Linked DNA regions of Homo sapiens. The protein of the gene in region 1 purifies or fractionates together with the protein of each later gene. This does not show direct contact. Each region holds a gene or a part of one and is shown in the gene's direction. Other genes may lie near its edges.

Region 1 (3,732 bases):
TGTTCTTTAGTACTCCCACAGGATTTTTTAAAATCCCATGGTATAATTTGTATACAATAAAATGCACACAGTTCAGCCAGTTTGAAAATGTATACACCCATGTAATCAGAACATTTCCATGTCCCCAAAAGGTCCTTTCCTGTCAGTCCCCACCTGATCCCCTGGCCCAGAAACCTCTCAGCTACCTCCCATCCTCATAGATCTGTCTTTCTCAGGGTTCCATGTGGATGGAATCTCACTGCCCTTTTGTGGTTGGTTATTTCCCCTTCCCCCAGCTTGGCATTTGTTACCCCAGCTTGGCATTTCATCCATATTATTGCATATTAGGAGTTCCATCCTTCTTTATTGCCAAGTAGTACTTTATTGTATTAAAAGCTTCGTGTTTCAAGTACCATCATGGTACAGTCTCTACCTACCAGTAATCATCTAACATGGAAACTTGTTTCAGATTAAGGTATCCATCTTGCCATGTTGCCTTGACAGAATGTGTCTGCAGATTAGAAAACGCACTTAGGAACTTTGCCTGTCTGACCACCGGGGATGTGATTGCCATCAACTATAATGAAAAGGTGAGCCCAGTTCATGCAGGTCATTCCTGACAAGAGCCACCTGCAGTGTCCATTCTAATGTTTGAATGGGGCTTCTTTTTAAGCAGCGTATGCCTGGATCTTATCACCTAATTACTGCCTACTGTTTGGTTATTAAGTTTTCCCGGGTTCATATTTAGAGCCCTAATTCATTTGGTAACTCTGTTTTGAGGATAGATTGCATTTACAGGGGAACATTGATAGACTTATTAGTCATACCTCTGTGTACCTTGGTGGCAAGGCTGCTGGTTCTGTCTTGGTTTGAAAGGTCCCCACTGCACCTCTAATCTGAGCTAAGCCCTTTGCAGGGCTGTGGAGACACAATAACAACCCTGCTGGGTCCTTGTCCTTGGGATACCTGCCCCACAGAAGCTGACAGGCCCTTCAGTGGGGCCAAGTGCTGTGTGGCATCTGAGAAGCAAAGCCTGGCTCTGCCTTAGGGCAACACCTCCTAGGCTCACCTCTCCTCCTGGGAGCCCACATCCTCCTCCACCTCCTGTTTTCTTCAGCTTCCGTTTTCACTTAGCAGCTTCTCTAGGCTTGACCTTTCTGACACAAGTCTCTCAGGTCTGAATGCCTCTGTTTTCATCCCTGATTTTATGCTGTTTAGGTGTCTGGATCTAGACAATTTAACTGTAAAGTGAAATGACAGGACTTAGTCCAAAATTCAAGAAAGCATTCACTTTCCTATTACCTATGGGAATATGCCTGCAGGAGGATGTAATAGTTGGCAATCCTGCCATCAGGCTGTCCCACCACAGGCATGGAGCACAGTAATATGGGTGCCCCTGTTCACTGTGACTGTTGACAATTGACCCTCCCACAGAGCTGTTGCCAGGGCTAGCCTTAGTGTTCGGGAGTGACCACAGCCTGGCTTGGCTGGGCTTTCCCTGAAGCTAGCACTTAGCTCCTTCACAGCACTCTCTGGTCCCTTCGGGGACTGGGCCGTCACAGCTGTGTCACAGCTGCCTGTGGTTTAGCCAGTTACTCCCTTGGTGTCAGTGCAGGGATCCAGCTTATTCTCTGGCAGTTTCCTCATATTTGAGGCATCTGACCTTATTTTTCAGTTCCTTGGGTTTCGAATCACACTTTCTTTTTTCCTTTTAATAAACTAAGAAATAATCTTGTTCCCTTTAGCTTTGTGGAGAACATTTTAGGTATCGTTTACCTTAACTGAATACTCTAAGCTTTTATAATTAATTACAGGCAGTTTAATGTTATTGTTTTTAATGTTAAGGTAGTAATACTACATATAACTCCTAAACTGATGATAAAGGATAGTACTGATACTTTGCACTCTAAGGGAGGGTACATTATATAAGAGTGTATGTAAAATTGAAACACAGGTTTGAACTTCCACTTTTAGAAGTAGGGAAAACTAGATCCTCTAATGGGCCCTTCTGATTAATGTACTGTTGTGCTTATAGAGAATTTTAAACACTCTAAGCTGGGTTGCCCTGAGGGCAGATGGCCATATCAGTGCTCTAGTGGGAGATCTGAGTCAGAGATCAGGATTGAACGGGAACCCTTAAAAGCAGTAAAATATACACAGAGGTGGGTGTTGTCATTGTCTCAGGAGAAATAAACAGATCCTCTCTGGAAAAAGCACTCCAGTTTAGTTACGTCTTTGGGATTGCTGTCAATTGAACAAGCAAAGAACACATAATTAAACTACACCAAAGCAGAGACAATAAAAATTAGATCCCTAAGGAAATCAGCATTAGAATTTCTAGATACAAATGTAAAATAATTAGATATAAAATGTTCAAAGATATTTTTTAAAATGGAATTATAATAGCGAGCAACAAAAGGCTATCAAAAATAACCAGAAAGATTTGAAAAACAATGTTAAACAACAGCTATAAAAGAGTTAATGAAAGATGAATCTGAAGAAATAACAGAATTTCACACAGAGGAGCAAGGGGATGGAACATATGAGAGCTTGAGATGTTGAAGACACTGAGAAAGTCAAACATGCCCATTGCAATCCCAGTAGGAAAGAATGGAGGAATTGCAATAATCTGAAGAGATGGTAACTGAAATTGATTTAGAATTGGTGGTCAGCCCATCATGACAGGAAATTTATAATGTATAACAAACAGAATAAGCTACAGGTAGAAAATACCAAATACAGAGAGGTAAGCAGGGAGAAAACACAGTACCTTCAGAAGAACAGCAAGTAGCAGGTCTTTGAATAGCAACAGTTACAGCCAGTATCAAGTAACTATCATCAAAACCTTCCTTAAAGAATAAGGGCAAAGTGAAAATATTTTCAGATGAACCAAATCTGAGAGAGGTTATTTACCAATGGAATTTTAAAAGCATGTACTTTAGGAATAAGCATTATCCTAGAAGGAAAGCAAGAAGGAATAGGGAATAAATAAATTGGCAAATATGAATCCAGGGTAAATGTTGCCATATAAAGCAGTAATAATGTTTAATGTATGAAGCTTAAAAAATGACATCTAAAATGTTGGAAAAGAGTAAGTCTTTAGACTTACTCTCTTTTTTTTTGAGAGAGTCTCTCTTTGTCTCACCCTGGCTGGAGTGCAGTGGCGCGATCTTGGCTCACTGCAGCTACCACCTCCTGGGTTCGAGCAATTCTCCTGTCTCATCTCAGCCACCTGAGTAGCTGGGACTACAGGCATGTGCCACCACTTGCGGCTACTTTTGTATTTTTAGTAGAGACGAGGTTTCACCATGTTGGCCAGGCTGGTCTCGAACTCCTGACCTCAGGTGAGCCATCAGCCTCAGCCTCCCAAAGTGCTGGGATTATAGATGTGAGCCACCGCGCCTGGCCTAGACTTACTCTCTTGAGAGAGTTGTTTAGAATTAAAGTGTTCTCTGTTTACAATTCAATAAAGTTAATAAAAAAGATAGCTGAAGCTGGGTGTGGTAGCTCACACCTGTAATCCCAGCAATTTGGGAGGCTGAGGTGGGTGGATCACTTAAGTCCAGGAGTTTGAGACCAGACTGGGCAACATGGCAAAACCCCATCTCGACAAAAAATACAAAAATTAGCTGGGCATGGTGGCATGCACCTGTAGTCCCAGCTACCTGGGAGGCTGAAGTGGGAGGATCACTTGAGTCCGGGAGGCAGAAGTTGCAGTGAACAGTGACCGTGCCACTGCACTCTAGCCTAGGT
Region 2 (3,732 bases), on another chromosome or scaffold:
CAACACATTATTTAAGTAGCTAATACATAATGCATATATATATATATACACACACACACACATATATATACACACACATATACACACATATATACATACACATATATATGTGTATATATATACAAACACATACATATATGTAGTCATTGTATATATTTCTAAGTAAATGTTTTTTATACATTTCGAAAAAGGACCAGAGGTAAAGAACCACTTTTACCACTAGGGTGAGTTTTTTGTTGGGATCATAATTATTTTTGGCCAGGTGCAGTGGTTCACGCCTGTAATCCCAGCACCTTGGGATGCCAAGGTGGGAGGATCACGAGGTCAGGAGTTCGAGACCAGCCTGGGCAAATGGTGAAACCCCGTCTCTACTAAAGATACAAAAATTAGCTGGGTGTGGTGGCGCATGCCCATAATCCCAGCTACTCGAGAGGCTGAAGCAGGAGAATTGCTTGAACCCAGGAGACAGAGGTTGCAGTGAGCTGAGATTGTGTCACTACTCTCCAGCCTGGGCAACAGAGCGAAGGAATTTTTAGTCCCAAGGAGTTCTAGTGTCACAGGAGTCTGGGACTCTGAGGGATGCTCTTCAGCATCCCAGCTCAGCTCCTCCAGGAAGTCAGCAAAATGGTACTTTACACCTGTATTAAAGCCAGTGCAGCCACATGACACATATTTGTTTGTTTTCTTTTATTTTCTTTTGAGACGGAGTCTCTGTCACCCAGGCTGGAGTGCAGTGGTACGATCTCAGCTCACTGCAACCTCCGCCTCCCAGGTTCAAGCAATTCTCTGCCTCAGCCTCTTGAGTAGCAGGGATTACAGGCACCCGCCACCACGCCTGGCTAATTTTTGTATTTTTAGTAGAGATGGGGTTTCACCATCTTGGCCAGGCTGGTCTTGAACTCCTGACCTCGTGATCCACCCACCTCGGCCTCCCAAAGTGCTGAAATTACAGGCGTGAGCCACCGTGCCTGGCCATGTTTTGTTTTTTGAACAGATCCAAAGAACTTTACATCAAAAGGATTTTCATTCCATTCACCAAGCCTGTTTTCTTTTTCTCTCCAGCTTCACGAGAAGTTTGACCTTCTAAAGCGGACACACCAAGAAGAAAAGAAGAAAGTGGAAGACAAGAAGAAGGAGCTTGAGGAGGAGGTGAACAACTTCCAGAAGAAGAAAGCAGCGGCTCAGTTACTACAGTCCCAGGCCCAGCAATCTGGGGCCCAGCAAACCAAGAAAGACAAGGATAAGAAAAAGTAAGCAGGTGTCACCCCCCTGTATCGGGGACCTCTAACAATTTATTCCTCTTGCATGTCTCTACTTTTCCCATTTACAGACTGGAAACTGGTCCTTTACCAGAAAGATAAAAGCAAGTATTTTCTCTACAGTGCAGGGAAGATGATGAAGGTTTTTAAATTTTTTTAAAAGGTACACAAAGATTAATTTATAAAACTTTACCACAATTGACCAAGCAATCAGGCCTGGAGGAACCTGTTGTCTCCAGTAGCATCTTCCACACCAACACTAGGAGTCTCAAAGAAGACAGGTTGATGTCTCTTCAGCACCCTCTGAAGACAATTCTCATGACTCTTGATAGAGAGCATCCTAAAATCACAATTGTTAAAATTATTTTCCTATTCTGTGTTGTAAGACTTCGTAAGCCAGTCACTGAAATTCTCGTTCCCAAAATGAAACATTTGGAAGAGCTGCTAGTGGCCACTAGTTTCCTCAAAATTCAATATGATGAATTGTTTTATTGTGAAATGGGATCCAAATGCCTATCCAGTTGACACCTCTGCCAACCTCAAGCCAAACCTAAACCCATTCATAAAAGGTTTTTTTTAAATAGGGTCTTAATGTCATGTGCCAAAGGGTCAGATTCTGCTCTTGAGTTGGTCACTTCCTGTGATACTCCAGTAGCAGCTGCCTGAAACCAGTGGGAGATTTAGGCCTCCCTTGACATTCTCCTGTGATTTGAAGCTCTCCTTTGAATCATCATAAAGCCTAGTTTTATGTCAATGCTATCGGTTTTGACAGGAAGCACGATGGTAAGAATACCACTAACGAAAACCTTTGTGGTGTCTCAATGACAAATATGCAGATGCCACCCTCCTTTGTCTAATGTACGGTGCTTTAGGGCAGCTATTTAATATAAAGCAACTCAGAACTTGTTTCAGGAAGTGTTGCTCTTTCGCCTTACATGCCAAGGTTCTAGGGAAAAAGCTGACCATATGTAAAAACATTGATGCTCAAGCACATAAAGAATTACATTCTTTAAACATAGAGTACATAGGATCAAGTCTCTGCACAATAATTGAGATGTGTTATAGGGAAAAGTGAGCACAGTGCTATTGTCCACTTAGTCTTGGTGAATGTGCAGTAGGCTCACCCCTAAGGAATCTCATGTTGCCTGCAGTAAAAATAAAAATGGACTGCTACAATGACATACTGAGAGAGTTTTAAATCATGCTTTACAAACTGACATTCTGAGCTCTGAGACAGCAGAAAATGTATCACCAGAGCAAGGGAGGAGGCAAATGTTCTGAACAATAATTGAAATGGTTGTGATTTTATTTGGAGTTGGCACAGATCCAAGTGACCAAAGGAGTTCAAGGCCCAAAATTTAGTTATGCTGGATTAATTCTGAGAGTAACAAGCACATAGATTATAATCTAAGAAAACCCTTTGTAGCTATGCATGTCGGGAGAGCATCTAACACTAATGGTGATGTTTCCCATGCAGAGACTCAGATTACAGTGACTCTTCCAGTGAAGACAGATGAAAGCCATTGGGCATTGTACCTTTGTTAATCCAAGCTAAACTAACCAAGGATATAGGGGTGTGTATGTGTCTGTGTGTGTGTGTTTGTGTGTGTGTACACATACATCTATAGGTATGAATGAGACAAAAAGCTGCTGACTTACAGCTTAGGAAATGCAAAGTCAAGTTTTTCTTTTCACCCTGAGGCACTCAGTGCATAAAGGTTCAAGTTTTAAAACTAAGAATGTTTCCAAAAGACCAGCAATGTTAAAAGAGTATTTCGTGTATACTAGACGTGCCTTTAAGCAATAAAAATTCCAAGAGCTGATCATTATTGTGCTTCCATTTTAGAAAAGTTTATTTAGTAACAAACTTCCCAGTGTAGGGAGGTTTTTCCTTGCCCTTTTGAACATGTTAGGTTATTTTCTTCCTATCCTGGGGCCTTACCAATGTGTAATGCTTTCAAAGTTTCTATGAAGCCTGTGTGGATTCTATTTTAGCTTATTTATATATTCTCATTTATTTTGAAGGATATTATACTTAATTTGGTTCAGAGTAGTCGCCAGGTTTTGCACCTGACAATGGCACATATTTTTTGTATAACTTTTTCTAGGTCCTTACCCTTTTCCACACTTTACATTTGTACAGTGAAAGCAACTGCCAGTGGAGGCCTGAAATGTCCAAGAAAAAAAAAAATCACACCTCTTACTGCCAGTGGTAGTGGAGTGTTTTGGTTAGAGGGACCGCAGAAAGACAGTGGCCAGGCTAGACAGAGCAGCACTTTGAAAAGAGCTGGGAAGATGCCTCCTAGCATAGCTGGAACAGATGTGGGAGTTGCCATTCAGGAACTGACTTTGTTATAGGTAGAAAATGAAAAGGCAGATGCTTACTTATTTACCTGCTATGCTTCCACCTCCAAGCCTAACTTAGTTTTTCTAATAGTTTTAAATTCTCTTTTTTCTGTTCTAATGACACGCT
Region 3 (3,500 bases), on another chromosome or scaffold:
AAACATAATTTATTGGAATATTGAGGACAACATATGTTCTTTAAACATTGTGCACACAAATTTTTTCAGTCGTCTTACGTTCATTTTACTTTTCTCAAACTGTAGAGTTGCCGATTTCTAAGTTTTTATGTGATTTAGTTTTAGTTACCTGATTCTTTCTAAAGGTGTTGTAATCCTGGTTATTTCACAAGTGCTATAATATACCTCAGCAGCCTAGAACTAATTCTGCAAACCTTTTCTACAGAATTTAAGATTTTATTCATGTGCATGGCATAGAAGATGAATTCTTCCACTTCCACCATGAGTGAAGAGCCTGACGCTCTATCGGTAGTTAACCAGTTACGGGATCTAGCAGCAGATCCGTTAAACAGAAGAGCCATCGTCCAGGATCAGGGATGTCTGCCTGGCCTTATTTTATTTATGGACCATCCCAACCCTCCAGTCGTCCACTCCGCTTTGCTTGTAAGTTGCCTTTAGTAATTTCAATCTCTGTTCTATTTTTGCAGTTAAGGTGAGAATTTGGAAAAAGTGCTAGATGACAAGGTAAAAAAACGGAAAGAGAGCAATTAGTTGTTTGTATTTATGTAGGTACAAACATATGTATGTGTGGTCTGTGGTCTGTTTACACCAGTGGTAACATGCTACATTGTTTTTATTCTTTATTTTTTTTTTTTTGAGTCATCTAGGCCTGGAGTACACTGTGGCAGGATCTTAGTTCACTGCAATCTCCACCTCCTGGGCTTAAACCATCCCCCCGACCTCAGCCTCCCAAGTAGCTGGGATGATAGGCACACACCACCATGCCAGCCAAATTTTTGATATTTTGTAGAGATAGGGTTTCGCCATGTTGGCCAGGCTCAAACTCCTGAGCTCAAGTGATCCTTCCACTTTGGCCTCCCAAAGTGTTGGAATTACAGCTGTGAGTCACCATGGCCAGCCTTGTTTTTATTCTTTTATACAAATTGTTGCATACTCCATGCATGGAATGTCCTACCACTTCCTTTTCATTTAACAATCTTGAGGATTGGATCATATCATACACAGAGACACTCAAAGAGGCACTTATTTTGTTTTTATTTTATAACAGCTTTTTAAGATGTAAGCACACAGCATCATATAATTCACTCATTTAAAGTATACAATTAAGTGATTTTAGTATATTCACAGAGTTGTGTGTCACCATCACCACAACTTTTTATTTTTATTTATTATAAATAAATTTTTTTTTTTTTTTTTAGTAGAGATAGGATGTAGCTATGTTAACTAGGCTGGTCTCAAACTCCTGGCCTCAAGTGATTCTTCTACCTCGAGCTCTCAAAGTGCTTAGATTACAGATGTGAGCCACTGTGCCCGGCCCACCACAACTTTTTATCTATTGCTTCCCAGACCCCAACACTCCCTGTCCCTAAGCAACTACTAATCTACTTTTTGTATGTCTATATTTGCCTATTCTGGCAAAAATGCCTATATATTTTGCATATAAATAGGGCCAGACGTGGTGGCTCACTCCTGTAATCCTAGCACTTTGGGAGGCCGAGGTGGGTGGATCACCTGAGGTCAGGAGTTTGACACCAGCTTGGCCAACGTAGTGAAACCCTGTCTGTACTAAAAATACAAAACAATTAGCCGGGCGTGGTGGTGGGTGCCTGAAATCCCAGCTACTCAGGAGGCTGAGGCAGGAGAATCCCTTGAACCCAGGAGGCAGAGGTTGCAGTGAGCCAAGATTGTGCCATTGCACTCGAGCCTGGGCAACAAGAGTGAAACTCCGTCTCAAAAAAAAAAAAAAAAAAGTTGTTAAAAAAATTAATGTTTTGGAAATTTTATCTATTGCCCTTTACTTAAGGACTCGTGATGATTCCCCATTTAGTCTAATTTCACAAGTTTGTACAGAAGGCATATAGACTTTTCCTTTTGGAAAAAAATTTCTATTTTGCCTTTACAGAATGAAGTTTAGCAGTCAAAAAAGACATTGGTGTAAGAGAACAGTAGTAACAAATGGGAAAAATGGCACAGTCCCCAGTCTGGGTTCAATTTCAATAAGAAATGCAAGAAGGATGAGAAGAAAGAGGGGGTTGATCTATAGATAGGGACTTGGGGCTAAAGGAAGTAAGTCTTTTTTATTTTTAAATAGACTAGAATATGTCTAAGTTCAGAGGGCAAGGGCTACTAGAATGGGAGAGGTTTGAGGGGAAGGCTCTCATAATTGCAGAAAATAGGAAAGATTTGCTAACTGAGGAGAATGATAAAGTTGTTCAGCAGTGTTGAGGGCTGATTAGTTTGGTAATACTGAATCGATATGATTCAGGCCTGTTGTAGGCTCACAGAGCCAAGTACTTGGATTTGTCTAGAGTTGTTACTTGGCCAGGTTAAGTTGGGCAGAATGATTGTGCAAGGGAGTTTAGGATCTTGGCAGGATTGGTTGAAATGATATACAGTAGATACTAGGCTGAATAGGAAGGGAAGTATAAAGTCATGGAGGGACAGAGCTAAGGAGAGGGATCAGTGAGTGAAAGTTCCCAAGAGGCTGAAGAAAAGATTTTTTTGTTGTTGTTTTTGAGACAGAGTTTTTGCTCTTGCCACCCAGGCTGGAGAGCAATGGCACAATCTTGGCTCACTGCAACCTCCGCCTCCTGGGTTCAAGCGATTCTCCTGCCTCAGCCTTCTGAGTAGCTAGAATTACAGGCCCGCACCATCACATGTGGCTAATTTTTGTATTTTTAGTAGAGACGGTTTTTCACCATGTTGGCCAGGCTAGTCTCGAACTCATGACCTCAGGTGATCTGCCTGTCTTGGCCTCTCAAAGTGCTGAAATTACAGGTGTGAGCCACCATGCCTGGCCATTGGGTGTGTTGTTTTTATGATTTCCTTTTTTCGTCACTGTTAGCTTATTAGTATACACTTTTGTTTTTATTTTAATTTATTTAGTGGTTGCTGTAGGTTTTACAATATGCATCTTTAACTTCTTACAGCCTACCTTTAAATGAATCATACCCTTAACATGTAGTGTAAGAATCACACAAGAGTATATTTCCATTTCTTTCTCCCATCTTTTGTGCTATTTTTGTCATACATTTTACTTCTACATATGTTTAAAAACCTACAGTGTATATATTTTTGCCTTAAACAGTCAATTATCTTTTAAAGAGATTAAAAATTTAAAAATGTCTTTTTTTTTTTTTGAGATGGAGTCTTGCTCTGTCACCTAGGCTGGAGTGCAGTGGCGCAATCTCAGCTCACTGCAACCTCTGCCTCCCGGGTTCAAATGATTCTTCTGCCTCAGCCTCCCTAGCAGCTGAGATTACAGGTGCATGTCAGCATGCCTGGCTAATTTTTGTATTTTTAGTAGAGACAGGGTTTCGCCATGTTGGCCAGGCTGGTCTTGAACTCCTGAGTTCAGGTGATCTGCCCCCCTCAGCTTCCCAAGGTACTGAGATTATAGGCGTGAGCCACCATGCCTAGCAAAAAAAGGTCTTTTATATTTACCTTCATTTTTACATTTC

What was found.
Region 2: the proteins of UFD1 (region 1) and SEPTIN11 fractionate together in Homo sapiens (co-fractionation; one large-scale study listed by BioGRID). This does not show direct contact.
Region 3: the proteins of UFD1 (region 1) and ARMC1 fractionate together in Homo sapiens (co-fractionation; one large-scale study listed by BioGRID). This does not show direct contact.

The regions. Positions count from the first base shown.
Region 1 is NC_000022.11:19,462,039-19,465,770, reverse strand, and holds part of UFD1 (ubiquitin recognition factor in ER-associated degradation protein 1), read left to right. Parts: intron 1-496; coding exon 497-569; intron 570-3,732. UniProt on the Homo sapiens protein: Essential component of the ubiquitin-dependent proteolytic pathway which degrades ubiquitin fusion proteins.
Region 2 is NC_000004.12:77,029,721-77,033,452, forward strand, and holds part of SEPTIN11 (septin-11), read left to right. Parts: intron 1-1,062; coding exon 1,063-1,250; intron 1,251-3,732. UniProt on the Homo sapiens protein: Filament-forming cytoskeletal GTPase. May play a role in cytokinesis. May play a role in the cytoarchitecture of neurons, including dendritic arborization and dendritic spines, and in GABAergic synaptic connectivity.
Region 3 is NC_000008.11:65,624,178-65,627,677, reverse strand, and holds part of ARMC1 (armadillo repeat-containing protein 1), read left to right. Parts: intron 1-244; 5' UTR 245-279; coding exon 280-462; intron 463-3,500.